4 linked regions of the Homo sapiens genome follow. The protein of the gene in region 1 interacts with the protein of each later gene in a pairwise test. Each region holds a gene or a part of one and is shown in the gene's direction. Other genes may lie near its edges.

Region 1 (5,328 bases):
GGTGCAGCAGAGCCATTCTCCAGCTGGAACCCCGACTGAGGGACTGGGGCGCGTCTCAACCCATTCCCAGGAGATGGACTCTGGGACTGAAGTAGGTGCTGGGCAACAGCTGACATGACAGTTCTGCTGTCCTTCCTGGGGTTCTAAAACCATGATCTCTTCAAGAATGAGGCTTCGCCAAGCTCCTTGAAACTTGTTTGGTTGGTTTCTACCATAGAGCTACTTATGCAGATACTCAAATAGAGAAATCATGGAAGCAGAGCAGTGAAAAGTTCTCAGATATCATCTGAACCAATACCTGTTTCTACAGATGAGTGTACTGAGGTTCACAGAGGTTGAATGACTTGTCCAAGACACACAGCTGGTTTGTGACAGATCTAAGACCAGAACTGGGACCTCCAGTTCTGATGGAAACTTCAGGCTACACAGATTTCAAGGCCAACAGTTGAGGTTTATATTTGTGTTAATTTAGTCAAACTAAGTATGACTTAAGTAAAATGAAGTTTAAATGATTTGTTTATGAAAAATAAAATTTAATAAATAGATAAGTTCTTAGAGTGTTCATCTTTCATAAATTCAAAATTGTGTGAGAAGAAAGAAACCAAGCATTACCTTTCCTGTAGAGAAACAGCCCCAGCGAAAAGTCTGAATAAACACAATCTGTAGGTAGTGCCCATAGACGCTGATGACTGACACCAGTTGGATGAGTTCACAGTGTGTAGTCTTGTTTCATTAACAGTCTTGTCAATCACACGTAAGGCCCTAAATGTGTTTATAAAGCACATGTACTATTATTTTTGACATTGTCCACACACTAAGTTTTTATGATGCACCCTTTGAATTCTAAAGTTATAGAGTAGATGAGCTTTGCATACCCCAAGGAAAAGAACACAGTGATATACTGCAAAGCACAGCATCCTATTGTAATTTCATGCTGTGTGGGCATTTTCTGCCTGAACACCTCTCTTGGTACCAAGGAGGACACCATAAGATTGAACCCTGGTTCAAATTCTGCTGCTGCCCCAGCTCTATGTGGAAATGTTAGTGCCTGCCCTACCTCTTTCACAGACATCTTCCAAAGATCAAAAGAGAACATGTACGTGAAAGTGTTCTATTTGGTAGGGGGAATTCAACCTTGAGGAGGATGAAATGGTTTTGATTTCATAGGATGGAAAGAAAATCTTGAATTAAATCAGATTAGATCTTTGTGGTTTTCTCCTTATATGTTTAGAGGTCTTGGATGGTGGTTTTATTTTTAAATAAAAACCTAACAGTAAAACTAAAGTGAAATAACCTTTAGTTAAAGATATTTATCCAAAAAAGATGTGCTTATTATGTTGAATACAGATGTGTTTATGATGTTAAAGGACAAGAATAGAAGAAATGGACATGACTGACATTGCAGCTTATTCAGCAAAACTCAAATTTAGAATATTGTGACATAAAACCCTGATATTGAGTTTACTGTTCCCTCATCTCCTTCTGACATCATGTTTTCATGGTGCCATTCAAGCCCAAGATTCATTTTTTAAAGTAAGCCTTCAAGGTACATTGCTCACAAACGTAATATCCTCATGAAGTCCCTAAATAAGGATGTAAATGTAATTATTCTTTTAAGGAAACTATCGTGGGAAGGAAATATCTTCAATTCCAGCATAAAATCATCCCTGAATTGAGGATTTTAAAGCTTTTGGAGCCAACACCAATTCACTTGCATCACCAGGCCAGAGTAGAAGGGCTCAAAGCTCTCCTCCCCAAGAGAAAGCCCCTTGGTTTGACTCTGTTCAGGATAAAGTACTGCTGTATAGGCTTCCTTACTTAGTTTATTGCCAATTATGTCAGCTTTTCATATTGATCAAGTAGTCAATATAGGAGGTTGCTTTTACTGAAAGGGAGAGGTAAGCTCTGTCACCACAGTGATCTTACAGATTTTAAGGTGCCACATGTGGTCCAAAATGTAATTTTCTCACTACAATTCTTGCAGTCTGATAATTAATGAAGTCCTACGAATGCACAATGACTAGTGAGTAACCAATACCAGAAGAAGCTGGAGACAGGCACGCACTGACTAGAGCACTAGAATGTGAACACCTGAATACCTTGAAGAATCTGTGATCGTTTTACAGCCCAAGCACAGTATTGTTAGCATTGTTATTCCTGCAGTATTTATCTGCTCTTCTTAATCTTCTTGCTTATTGATTAGTATGGCATGGGGAGCAGCACCAAAGCCTCCTTCACCCCCTTTGTGGACCCCAGAGTATACCAGACGTCTCCCACTGATGAAGATGAAGAGGATGAGGAATCATCAGCCGCAGGTAAGCAAGAAGGGCCCTGTGTTTAAAAAACAGCTTCGTCTTCCTTTCTGGTATGACCTGATAAGGAAATTAATCCTCAGTTCAGTAGTTAAGCTGATTACTGCTTAGGTCCTATCTTAAAAGGAAGACTTTTTAAAATTATTATTTCTGTAGGACTCCTAAAACAAATGTATTACTTTCCATTTTTTTTCCCATCTCTTCTATTTCGTTTCTGGTAGACCCAGGGGTACATAGGGACCCTAGGAAAAGCTGTTCCTCAGTGATCTCTGAACATAACTAAATGTTTCCCCAAAACAATTTCTGGGTACAATGTTTTACACACATTAGGCACTTAATAAGTGTATGGTACATTGTGTTGAGTTCTAGGTGTGTGCTTCCCACCACAAAGATCAGGCTGATTTAAAGGAGTCTTGCTTTCTAATCTTCTTCAAGTAATTAATCATCAAAGTCAGCTTAGGACAGTTTTTCAACTGATAAACTGCAATTTTAAAAAGTAGATCTTTTTTGCCTATATACAAGAGTGGGGATGGTGTATTTAATTTGGGACTTTCTAGACTCTGCAAGTAGTGTCTATAAGCCTGTTTTTCTAATGAATAAAAGATTCCTTTGATGAATGACTTAGACTTTATTCTACTAAAACAAAAAAAAAGTGTAAAATAAGGAGAGTTTCAGAGTTTCCTTGCCTTTACTATAATTCAAACCAAACAAGGAGAAATCATAGTGTTTTGAAGCCCCATCTCCATAAGTTATCTTTTAAGATGTCACTGACTTCTCTGATTCTTTTTCTCAAAGCTCTGTTTACTAGCGAACTTCTTAGGCAAGAACAGGCCAAACTCAATGAAGCAAGAAAGATTTCGGTGGTAAATGTAAACCCAACCAACATTCGGCCTCATAGCGACACACCAGAAATCAGAAAATACAAGAAACGATTCAACTCAGAAATACTTTGTGCAGCTCTGTGGGGTATGTTGGTGCTTTTTTTTTTTTTTTTTTTAAATAACCACTCATTAATGAACTGACCCTCAAACATTAAAAGCCTGTGGATCTTGTCATCAAAAGAACACTGGTTGAATCCTGGGTATTAGAGACCTAACTTGGGACTATCTTGACCTCAGGAGAAACCAAAAGGAGTTTTATATGTAGAAATAGCTGATACGCTACTAGCCAGGAAGACGAGATTAGATTCAGAGCAACCTTGTCACACAATAGTGATAGGCTAAAGCCAACAAGAGAACTAGCTACCACTGAATACATTGAGTGGGCAAAGCAAAGCCTATAATGTGATCAATCAGAGGCGATTTGTGTCTGGCACTTTGTGATATACCCCACGTTCATTCTCCATGATCCATACCACATCCTGCAAGGGGAATATGAGCATAAATAATGGCATAAACCTTTATTTCAAGCTGAAAAATCAGCCCAGAGTATTTTTGTGAATTACTAAAGGTCATAACCCTAGCAATAACAAGATAAAACTTGAAAAGAACAACAAATAATTTAATGAACTTTCCCTTTTAGTTTAAAACATCAATCTGCATTTTCTCGTGAAAAAGATCTGCAGGTTTTAGCTGACCTCAAACTCAGGAGAGGCATGATGAGATTCTATCAAAGTCTTGGTCTGTGTTACTATAAACATCTCATACAGATTAAGGAAGGACATGTCCCCTGTGTACCCACTGAAAATACTAGGCTTGGATTGGGGAACCATAATTTTAAAAGGCTGAAAGCATTTGAGATGTTAGCGGGGAAGAGTGTGAAGCCTAGGAACCATTTCATGATAGAGGCTCTGTCCTCTGGAGAAGAGACAGAAGAGAACAAGATAGCCACATTTAATACTGAAAGGATTAATATATGGACAAAAAAGCAGACATTTGTGTTGATCAGAAGATAGAAGTACAAGACGTAAGAGAAGTTAGAGAGTTACATGTTCATGAATAAAGTACACTGCACAATGAGCCTCTCAATGTGTGTGTGTGTTGAGGGGTGGATGATACATTTCCCTAGCCATAAATTTTTAGGATTACAACTACCCAGACAAAGCCACTTATGTGCCTGTGCTTCTGTAATAGGGATTACTGCATGGGTGTTGGGCTGCACTAGATTTAGAGACCTGAGAAGTCCCTTAAAGTGAGTATGTCTGTGACTCTCCAGCTATTAACACTTCTCTTGAATGGGTTTATCATTTCCCTAAAAAAGAGCAAAAACTTGAGGGTATGGGGCATAAGATAGTTACATTTTGATTCAAGAAGGAGGAAGGGCCTTTCTTCCATTGGAGTATGGAAATGGAAATTCCACTGTATATTGAAGGTGGGTAGGCTAGAGACCACTGCATAGGGGTGGGGGTGAATCTTGGGGAAGAAGAGAAGTGATTTATAGGGAGAGCCAAGAAAGAAGTGGTTTTTCCAGGCAGGGAATAAAGGCAAATTATGCTAGCTTCACATCTGTGCCTAAGGCTCCTATTGACAAGGACTCTCTGCATTAGGTAGTAAATAACTAGATGTATGAATGCTGCTAACTTTATAAAAGAAAACTGTAATTTCATTACCAGAAGTACAATGATTTAATTATTATGTCAGAGCTTCTACATTCATTAGTTTATATTTACCTACTTGCCCATTAGTGTATATTTACAAGTCACAGTTTCTTAAATTTTATAGGGACTCTCGATGCAGAAGATTAAAGTTCATGAAAAGTCAGTCTTAGGGTGCTTCTTAAATTTACAGGTGTAAACCTTCTGGTGGGGACTGAAAATGGCCTGATGCTTTTGGACCGAAGTGGGCAAGGCAAAGTCTATAATCTGATCAACCGGAGGCGATTTCAGCAGATGGATGTGCTAGAGGGACTGAATGTCCTTGTGACAATTTCAGGTATGTTACTAAGATGATGAGTCCCCCAGGTCCATACAGCGGGAAAGGGATCCACCTCATTTCTGCAGAAACAGTTAGTTCTGCCCTTCCCAGCTAACAAACAACACAATAAAGTATAGCAGTATAGCCAGAGTGAGATTGCCCAC
Region 2 (3,500 bases), about 150 Mb from region 1:
ATGACATTAAAAACAGAAAATACATAGAGAAAAATCAGTAAAACCAAAAGCTAGTCCTTTGAAAACCTTATTAAAATCAGTAAGTCTTTAGTCAAGCTAACTAAGAAAGAGATGATACAAATTACTAATGTCAGAAATGAAATAAAGGATATCACCACAGATTTTATGGACACTAAAAGGATAATGAAGGAATATTATGAACAATTCTATGCCCACAAACTTGAAAACCTAGATGAAATAGGCCAATTCCTTGAAAGGTACCATCTGCCAAAACTCATATGAGAAGAAATATACAATCTGAATAATTCTATATCTATTAAGGAAATCAAATCAATAATTAATAAGCCTCCAAAACAAAAAGCACCAGCACAGATAGGTTCACTGGTTTCTGCTAAACATTTAAGAAAGAAATGATACCAATTCTCTACAATATCTTCCAGAAAATAGAAGCAGAGTGAATACTTCCTAACTCATTCTACCAACCCAGTTTTACCTTAATACCAAACCAAAGACATTACAAGAAAAGAAAACAATAGACCAGTATCTCTCATCAACACAGATGCAAAAATCCTTAACAAAATATTAACAATTAAAATCCAAAAATGAATAAAAAGAATTATTCACCATGATCAAATGGGATTTATACTGGGTATACAAGGTTGATTTAACTTTTGAAAATCAACTAATGTCATTCATCATATCAACAGGCTAAAGAAGACAAAGCTCGTGGTTGTATCAGTAGATGCAAAAAAAGTTTGACAAAATTCAACTCCCATTCATGACAAAAATTCTCAGTGAACTAGGAATAGAGAGGACCTTACTCAACTTGATAAGGAACATCTACAAAAATCATACTGCTTACATCATATTTAAAGGTGAGAAACTGAAAGCATTCCCGATAAGATTAGGGACAAAGCAAAGATGTTCTCTGACACCACTGCTTTCAACATTGACCTGGAAGTCCAGTCCTAGCTAATGAAGAAAGACAAGAAAATAAAATAAAAGGTATATATCTTGAGAAGGAAGAAATAAAACTGTCTCTGTTCACAGATGATATAATCATCTATGTAGAAAATCCAAAAGAATTGACAAAAAAATCTCCTCGAACAATATAATGAGCAATTATGGCAGGGTTGCAGGAAACAAGGTTAGTATACAAAAATCAATTGATTTCTTTTTTTAAGAAAAAAAAAATTTTGAGACAGGGTCTCACTCTGTCACCCAGGCTGGAGTGTACTGGCATGATCATGGCTCACTGCAGCCTTGACTTCCCTGGGCTCAGGTGATCCTCCCACCTCAGCCTCACAAGTAGCTGGTACTTCAGGTGCACACCAACATACCCAGCTAATTTTTGTATTTTTATATAGAGATGGGGTTTCGCCAGGTTGCCCAGGCCAGTATTGAACTCCTGAGGCTCAAGCCTTAGCCTCCCAAAGTGCTGGGATTACAGGCATGAGCCACCACACCCAGCCAATTTATTTCTTTTTTTTTTTAAGGCGGAGTCTCACTTTGTGAGACAGAGTGTCGCTCTTGTTGCCCAGGCTGGAGTGCAGTGGTGTGATCTCGGCTCACTGCAAGCTCCACCTCCTGGGTTCACGCCATTCTCTGCCTCAGCCTCCCAAGTAGCTGGGACTACAGGCGCCCGCCACCACGCCCGGCTAATTTTTTGTATTTTTAGTAGAGACGGGGTTTCACCATGTTAGCCAGGATGGTCTCGATCTCCTGACCTCATGATCCGCCCGCCTCGGCCTCCCAAAGTGCTGGGATTACAGGCGTGAGCCACCATGCCCGGCCCAATTTATTTCTTATATACCAGCAAAGAACAAGTGGAATTCGAAATTAAAAACACATGACCATTTACATTAGAACCCCCAGAAATAAAATATTCAGGTATAAATCTAACAACATATATATGACTTATATGAGGAAAACTATAAAACTCTGGTGAAAGGTATCAAAGAATTAAGTAAATGGAGAGATATTCCATATTCATGGATGGGAAGACTTAATATTGTCAAGATATCAGTTCTTCCCAACTTGATATATAGATTCAACATAATCTCAAACTTCCAGCAAGCATAAAAATAGATAAATAAATAAATCCACCAAGTTATTTTGTGGAAATTGACAAACCGATTCCAAAGTTTAAAGAGAGAAACAAAAGACCCAGAATAGCCAACACAATATTAAAGGAGAAGAATAAAATCAGAGGACAGACTTTATCTGACTTTAAAACTTACTGCAAAGCTACAGGAAATAAAACAGTGTGAAAAGAATAGACAAATAGATCAGCAGAACAGGATAGAAGAGCCCAGAAATAGACCCACACAAAGCAGTTACTCAATCTTTGGCAAAGAGGCAAAGGCAATACAGTGGAATAGAGACTTCATCTTTTCAACAATTCATGCTGGAAAAACTGGACATCCACATGAAAAATTCAGTCTAGGCACAAATCTTACACCCTTCACAAGAATTAACTCAAAATAGATCATAGACCTAAAGATAAAACACAAAGCTATAGAATTCCTAGAAGATAACACAGGATAAAATCTAGGCGACCTTGGATATGGCAGTGCTTTTTCAGATACACCACCATAGACAATCCATTAAAGGAAGAATGGGTAAGTTGGACTTCCTTAAAATTTAAAACTTCTGCTCTATAAAGACAATGTCAAGAGAATGAGAAGAGAAGCCACAGTCTGGGAGAAAATACTTGCAAAGGACACACCTGATAAAGTACTGTTTTCCAAAATATGCAAAGAACTCTTAAAACTCAACAGTAAGGAAACAACCTGATTAAAAACTGGGCAAAAGTCTGAGCAGTCAAAGAGCTCTTAAAAAATGCAAAGAACCCTTAAAACTCAACAGTAAGGAAACAACCTGATTAAAAACTGGGCAAAAGTCTGAACAGTCACCTCGCCAAAGAAGATATACAAATGGAAAGTATATTAGCATCACATGTCACTAGGAAATTATATATTAAAACAACAATGAGATACCAATACACATCTATTACAGTAGCCAAAATACAAAACTAACATCACCAAATGCTGGCGAGGATGTGAAACAACAGGAACTTTCATTTATGCTGGTGGAAATGCAAAATGGTGCAGACAATTTGGAAGAAACTGTCAAACTATCTGTAGTTCTTACAGAACTAAACATACTCTTACCATATGATCCAGCGATCATACCCCTTGGAATGTACCTAAATGAATTGGAAACTTATGTCAACACAAAAATCTGCATACAGATGCTTATAGCAGAGTTATTTTTAATTGCCAAAATTTGGAAGCAACATAGATGTCCTGAAGTAAATGAATGGATAAATAAACTGCAGTGCATCCAGACAATGGAATATTATTCAGCACTAAAAAGATATGAGCTATCAAGCCATGAGACGACATGGAGGAAATTTAAATGCATATTACTAAGCGAAAGAAGCCAATCCAAAAAGGCTACACACTGTGTTTCCAACTAGACGACATTGTTGAAAAGGC
Region 3 (3,500 bases), on another chromosome or scaffold:
CTGCTCAACTCATGGTTTTAGGATTAAATTTGTTTGGTAACAGTATGGATAGTAAGGAGAAATAATGAGGGAAAGACATATTTTAAGGCTACTGTGCAATGATGTGGTGAGCACCAACCATTAAGAATCGAATAATGGGTAGAATATAAGGTGAATCAGATTTTTTAAAAAGAAGCATACTTTAGAAATTAATAATTAGTGCAGCTCCCTTGTTTAACAGATGCACCCTTTCGGGCCCCAAAGGGGAAGTGGCTTGTCCCCACAGAGTCAGTTAATAGAAGAGGTGGGGCTAGTACTCAGGCCCTTTTGCTTGAAGTCCTGCACTCTTTCGGGCTCTCTTTCAAAGGAAAAAGGAATGGGACACAGTAATGGGTTAAAGGGAAGGAAGAAGAGTAAAAAAACTGGGTGAAGATTGTCAGCTATTATATAGTTAATCCTTTTTATTTCTAAAAACTGAGTACCTTATTTTAAATTATATACATTTCTATTTGCTGCACAGGACATTTCAGTGTCATTGTCTTCTTTAAAAATGGGAAAAACAGAATAAAATCTAATTGATTAGAAAAGAAAGAAATGACTTAAGTTTTTTTATATTTGTAGTTTGGGGATAGCAATGGTTTTCTCTTAATGCCTTCCTGTCCCAGGGGCAGGGAGTAGAGTGTTGAACAGAACGTGGTGTTTACATTCTAGTGGGTCTTAGTCCAAGCCTCTCATTTTACAAGAAAAGACTGTCCAAGGTCATGTAGCTAGTTAGGTAAATCAGTTTGAGGCCCTGCTGTAATTAGGGTTTGGTTTAAAAATTAATATTTGAACAGTGAAAGCTGTTAACTTCCGGTTCAGTAGAAGCAAGGAGAATGCAGATAAAAAAGACCCAGATATCTAGCAAAACACACAACTGCATAGAAAGCCACCTTGTTAATATCCTCCAATTAAGTAAAGATAGTGTTTTGCAGAAGAGATGTGTTTGGTTCTCACTAGTATTGTTGGATGTAAATGTTCTTGGTCTCTGGGTCTGGAAGGGACTTTGAGAAGCTGTCCAGTTTTGATTTTGAATAGCATTACTTCAAAATCATTCCACGGCACATAAGAGTCTGTTCTATTATTAAAGAGAGTGAGCTCTCACAGCTGCTCTAAATAACTTATTCTGATTTTTAACCACCCCCCTGTCAGAATTCTTCACTCTTTACTGCATGGCTAATGTAAACTCTGGCCTGCCAAGTGCGTACCAATTGGTTCTGTTCTCTACACAACAGGAAGAGTTGGGCCTTTGTAATCTCTCCAGGGGATCAGTAGAAATCTGAACCAGGTATCCTGTGCATCTCACAGAACTTAACAATTATGAAATGTACCTTATCCATAAGGAATACCATCAAACATTAATACTATAATGAATACCTTATTCATTAAGTTTGTCTTTAGAAAATACTAAAATGGAAGTTTTTGGAAGGAGATTTCATATTAACTGAGGAAATACCTTTCTTAGCTGTCTAGTGCTGTTAATTAATATTCCCAGAAGTGACATTTAATACTGTGATCTGATAAACATTGTGAACTCCTTGTTTTGTTCCTGTTTTAATGTGGATGTTCTTTCTGGAGGTATTGTTTTGTCAGGAGTACTTTCAAGATTTCATTGCTTTTTTGTTTTTTTAAGTTTAGAGCCCCAAAGTTGGTCCTGCTGTTAATATATCTAAGTCACATAAAAATAAGAAGCATATTAATTTGTAGTTCCTTAACTTACCTCATTCCTATTTCTCTTGTTCCCCTTTGGTAGTAAGTGGTAATTATAAATGGATTAAAATTGTAATACTGTCAATGTGTATAATTAAGGTTTATGGTAAAATTCATGTTATTCTTTTCCTAAAATACAACAACCCTAGTATGAGTGTGGAGTAAATATCAAATGAGTAGCTTTTAGTTAACTATTAGTGATTTGGTACATGACCTGTGGTTTATGAATTACTGTGATTTGGTAAATAAAAAAAGGCCCTTTAAAGGCTTTAGAGTAAAAAAATGAAATAATTTCCCAAATCAGTTGAAAGTAGATGAAATAAAAATAGGGAATTAAAGATGAATCAGCATGGCCTAATTTTTAAATAAGAATTTCTTTCTGATCCAGTATATGTATATATATCTCCTTTGGGAATTAGGTCTGTGAGTTAATCTAATGGTTGGAGTCTCACCTTGTAATTACCTGCCCATTCACTTTTAGAATGAATGTAATTTGGCATGAAGAGAGTACCTTTCGTGTGTCTGTGAGTGTGGTTTTAGTGAAATCATAGTAGGTTGTGACAGCTTTATACAGCATAATAATATTGTTAGCTTAAATTTTGAAAACAATTTCAATGTTAGAAAAGCAAATGTTGTAATGTTTTAGCAATTTGAGGAAAAGGTTTCAACATTAATAGAAAAATATGTCCATATACTTAAGTATTTTTATACTTACTGCCTACAATATCATATACCATTTACTTGATCTGAGTGTGAAGGAGGGCGTTTTTTACTTTTAATAAGAAAATGTTAAAAAAGATTTAGTAGAATCTGAAATCTGGAGTTCAGTTTTCCTGGAAATTTTCCTTATATGGAACCACAGAGAGAAATAAGAAGTAAACACATAAGATGGAACCATTTCAGAACACCTTCGTACATGCATTAAAGCTCATGCACTCCACTCACTAAGCGCTCTAAGTGCACTAAAGCTCATGCATTTCTTTCATTTGTGTTTAAACTTAACAAAAAATACAGTTCAAACAAGTTTCAATATTAGGTTTCCTATCAAATTAGAATGGTTTTATGGCAATCTAAACACAAGGTGATGAGCTCTTAGAGACAAGCTCATTTGACAATAGTGAGAAGTGACAGTAGCAGCTTAGTGGTCAAGGAGGGAACAGGAAAGCTTTAAAAGCCGACTCAACCAAATCACACTAGCCGATTTGTGTAGGGTGATTTGAAACAGCTTTATTATGTGTTTCATGGCCCTGAGAGGATAACTGTGTTTTCAATGATGTCACAGTCAAGAAGAGGTTCCAGTGTGGTCTGCTTAAGAAGGGTCAGGAATGTTTAATGTATTTTAGAAAGGTTTTCCTTTTAAAAAGAAAAAAAAAGAAGAAGTTGGATGGATAAAGAAGTAGGCTTCAGACACCTGGAAAATTCAGATGTGAGGACATTTCAGTCATGATACTAGATTGCAGAGGTACGACTAAGAGAGTTGTGCTTCATTTTCAAAAGAGTAAATGTTTTTTTCCTCCCTTTTTTTTCTAGGGAGTTTTACTTCCTTTTTTAAGCTTGTATTTTTCATTTTCTTTATCATAGGAATTTTTATTGTTTAGTGTTATCACATTTTTCAGTCACAACTGACATAAAAATTTTCGTTAAGCTCATATTGATAGTAGGTGACATTATTGGGTTTTTTTTGTTTTGTTTTGTTTTTTTAAGATGGAGTTTTGCTCTTTCACCCAGGCTGGAGTGCAGTGGTGTGATCTTGGCTCACTGCAACGTCCGCC
Region 4 (3,500 bases), on another chromosome or scaffold:
AAAAGCAGAATTAGGAAGACAAGGAATATGCAAAGGAAGAGAATGGCCGAAGGATTTGCTTTTTGATATGAAATGGCCTGGGAAGGTCTCTCTTATTAGGAACCCTGAAGAGACTATGGAAGTGGGTCATGAGAGTATATGATGGAAGAATGTTGCAGGCAGAGGAAGCCATAATCCAAAGGCCCCAAACAAGGGCATACTTGGTATGTTTGAGGAACTGCAAGGATGCCTGTGACACTAGAGCAAAGAAAGCAGTGAGGAGTGTGGTGGGAGATGAGGTTGAAGGGCTTGTTTGGGATGTGGGATTGGGGGGTGGGGTGACCACATAGAGTGGGCTGGTAGTTGACAGAACCAGCTACACATTCTAGTCACTCTGGGAGCTTTGAAAAAATGTCTGGGCCCAATCCCAAAATCTGTTTTAATTGGTCTGGGTTGAAATCTGGTCAAGTCTTTATAAAACATTACCAGAATAAATCCAGTGTGTAGTCAGGGTCTGGTATACCTTAGTAAAGCATGACTCTAACTCAGTGAGATGGGAAGCCACTGAAAGATTTTGCACAGGATGATACAGCTTGATCACCCTGGCATGTGCCTCTTCTTCACCCACATTCCCCTCTGGACCTTAAGATCATGCCTTAGTATGAAGCTTGGGATCCTGCCTCACCCTTTTAGGGAAGAGAGTGAATGTGGTCCTAAGTAAGCTCTCTGGGCACTTCACCTGTTCTGCCTCTGCCAGTCTGTCTGGGTAAGTGTCAAGGATGTAATAGAAGGAAAAGAGGAAGACTTCTAGGAACAAGAGCCCATTCTGTCCCCTTCCAAGACAAGTTGGAGACAGAGCTTCTACCTTTTTCAGTTTCCTTCCAGCAGGCAATCCCTGGGCCTCCCTCCCAGTGTTACCCTATAGTCACAGTATTTACAGATTGATTTAAGAACCAGTAAGTGGTGTATGTCACTTCTGCTGATCCCTGTGTTGAAAATATTAAAACTTCTGCACATGTGTCATATATGTAACCTAGTACCCCAAACCTTGCTGTCACGCTCTGTTACCATAAAGGATATGCTCAGAAATAATATAAGCCTGCTATCTAAATTGCACCTTTTTCTGTCGAAGTAACAGTATAATGTAGTTGTTCAGAGTGGGAACTCTGAAACTGGCTAATTTGCATCCTGGTTCTAACACTAGCTAGCTGAGCGATAAATCCATTGTGTGCTTCAGACAATGGTGTCAATAAGTCTGTTGTCAGTCTGAATGAGTAGATACATATAAAGTGCTTAGAAAAGTGCATGACACATATTTAGGGCTCAAAAGATCTAAATATTAATGTCTCTATAGTTTCCTTCTTGATTTAATTACCACACAAATGAATCTCTCTTTAATTTTATCAACAGCATAGGAGACTTCTATATGCATAATATGTCTTTTGGTAGCATGTTAGGCACATTCTTCTCTGTGGTTTAATTGCTGAAAACATAAAGATGCTACATACTAAGTGGAGTAAATTTTAATTGAGAAAAGGAAGATAATCTCAAAACATTTTTAGAAAACAAACAACCCATTTTATATCATTGCTGTGAAAAAATAATTACTGGCAAAACTCTCTAATTCCTGGCCTTCTCATGATCAAAAAAAACAGCAGCCTCTTTTGGACAAGCTGAGGCTGGGAATGTAAAGAATTAAGAAGTGGACAATAAATGTTTTCAACGTATTTATCTAGAGAACCATCTAGAGAAGTGCCTGCTTTGCCAGCAAATATGAAAATCTGAGATTTCATTGTGGCCTCCCCAACTGCTCCCCTAGCAGAGGTTACAAGATTTAGTGGATGATGGTGGGGGAGGATGACAAGGGGGGAGGTTACACAGTTTCATCCTCACAGGAAAGGGACTACTTGGACTCACATTATTTCTCTAACTTTCTGTATCCATAGAAATGTCTCATCTTTGTTTCATAGGATTCAGAAAGTTAACATAAACTTACTGGAATATGAAAATATGAAATATTTATTGAAAATGCAAATGTGATACTTACACATAGTAGCAGCCCTAAAGGCACCTGAAAGCTAATGTATCTTTATTCAAGGGGAAGGCTTTACTTCAGAGCTTTATTTGAGCTTAACACTCCACCTGAGTGATATTTAAATAAAAGCAAAATAGAAAATGCCTCTTAGGAAAGAATGCCCTAATTTCAGCATTGCTCTTATATTAATTTAGAGGTCTCATTTTAACATTGCCCACAGGATAAAGTCTAAATTTCTCAGCTGCACAAGCTGACCTCAATCTTTTCTGCATCTTCTTTTACCCCATCTCTACAGTGGCCCTACCTCCATCACTTCTTTTCAGGAGTTAGTGCATCTGAAAGGCAAACTCATTCCTCTATATCTTTACTCCTACAACAGTTTGTTCAGTTTTATTTCTGTTGAAATTTTGCATATCCTTCAAAAGTCAGTTCTCTTGAATGATTTTCTCTGATTCCCCAGATCTGGAATTAGAGCTTCTTCCTTTGCCCTCTCAGTCCCTTTTTGTTCATTTATTGCCCTGAGTTAGTTCTGCCCACTGTTTTTGCTAATTGCATCCTTTTTATCATTATAAACAGTTAGCTCTTTGGGGAAAGAGTACAATATTTCTTAGTCACATGTGTTTGGCATATATACAGTACCACATATAGACCAGAAACTAAATACCTATGAAATGAATGAAACACAAAGACCAAAAAACATTTCCAGAACTAGAACATACTTTCCCTTGAAACCCCTGCATGTAACATCTTTATCTCACAGCGATTTGTACTGCCACCCTTGTGTCTTTGTATATCTCTATGACAGTCTAATTATGACATTTCTTGCTCAATAGGAGCATTTAGTGCTCCAAGTTGACCCTAGGACAATAATTTGACCTGAATAAGATAAAATTCAATCTTTATTCAATGTCCTTCAAGATCTGACTTATGCCACCAGCAAATCTCATGTCACTCCTCTCCTCTCACTCTGTAACACCCATATGGAATTTCTGTCCCAGAAATGGTTTTTCTATGTGGAATGCCTTTTTTTTTCCCTTTTCCTCCTCTTCATCTTCCATTGGCTAACTACTCATGCACCAGATTCTAGATAAGATGCTACTCATTTTGGAAATTATCCCTAGCTCCCCACACCATCTCTAGCCCTAGATTAGATAAAGTCTTTCTCCTTAGTGATCTAATAGCTAACAGTTAGATATGAGAAAGACTTGGGTCAAGGTCTGAAGTTATTGTTACCAACTAGTAACTTTAGACATTTGCAAACTTTAGCTTATTAAATCATAGATCACTGGGCCTCATCCTCAGAGTTTCTGAATCAGTGGTTCTGGGATGAATCTCAAGAATTTGCTTTTCCAACAGCTTTCTGGGTGACACTGATGATGCTGTTCTGAGGAGCACAGAGATAACTGATGCTTTTGATAATTTATTCATCTACTTCTGTTACCCCTGTAAACTTTAGTTTCAGCACCTGCAAAGTGAGGCTAAAAGG

What was found. Proteins that work in one complex are often made in the same cells at the same time.
Region 2: the proteins of TNIK (region 1) and PLCL2 interact in a two-hybrid assay, tested with the Homo sapiens proteins (one large-scale study listed by IntAct).
Region 3: the proteins of TNIK (region 1) and USP24 interact in a two-hybrid assay, tested with the Homo sapiens proteins (one large-scale study listed by IntAct).
Region 4: the proteins of TNIK (region 1) and MTCL3 interact in a two-hybrid assay, tested with the Homo sapiens proteins (one large-scale study listed by IntAct).

The regions. Positions count from the first base shown.
Region 1 is NC_000003.12:171,082,105-171,087,432, reverse strand, and holds part of TNIK (TRAF2 and NCK-interacting protein kinase), read left to right. Parts: coding exon 1-91; intron 92-2,203; coding exon 2,204-2,315; intron 2,316-3,107; coding exon 3,108-3,278; intron 3,279-5,038; coding exon 5,039-5,182; intron 5,183-5,328. UniProt on the Homo sapiens protein: Serine/threonine kinase that acts as an essential activator of the Wnt signaling pathway. Recruited to promoters of Wnt target genes and required to activate their expression. May act by phosphorylating TCF4/TCF7L2.
Region 2 is NC_000003.12:17,083,955-17,087,454, forward strand, and holds part of PLCL2 (inactive phospholipase C-like protein 2), read left to right. Parts: intron 1-3,500. UniProt on the Homo sapiens protein: May play an role in the regulation of Ins(1,4,5)P3 around the endoplasmic reticulum.
Region 3 is NC_000001.11:55,208,865-55,212,364, reverse strand, and holds part of USP24 (ubiquitin carboxyl-terminal hydrolase 24), read left to right. Parts: intron 1-3,500. UniProt on the Homo sapiens protein: Ubiquitin-specific protease that regulates cell survival in various contexts through modulating the protein stability of some of its substrates including DDB2, MCL1 or TP53.
Region 4 is NC_000006.12:127,484,836-127,488,335, reverse strand, and holds part of MTCL3 (microtubule cross-linking factor 3 precursor), read left to right. Parts: intron 1-3,500.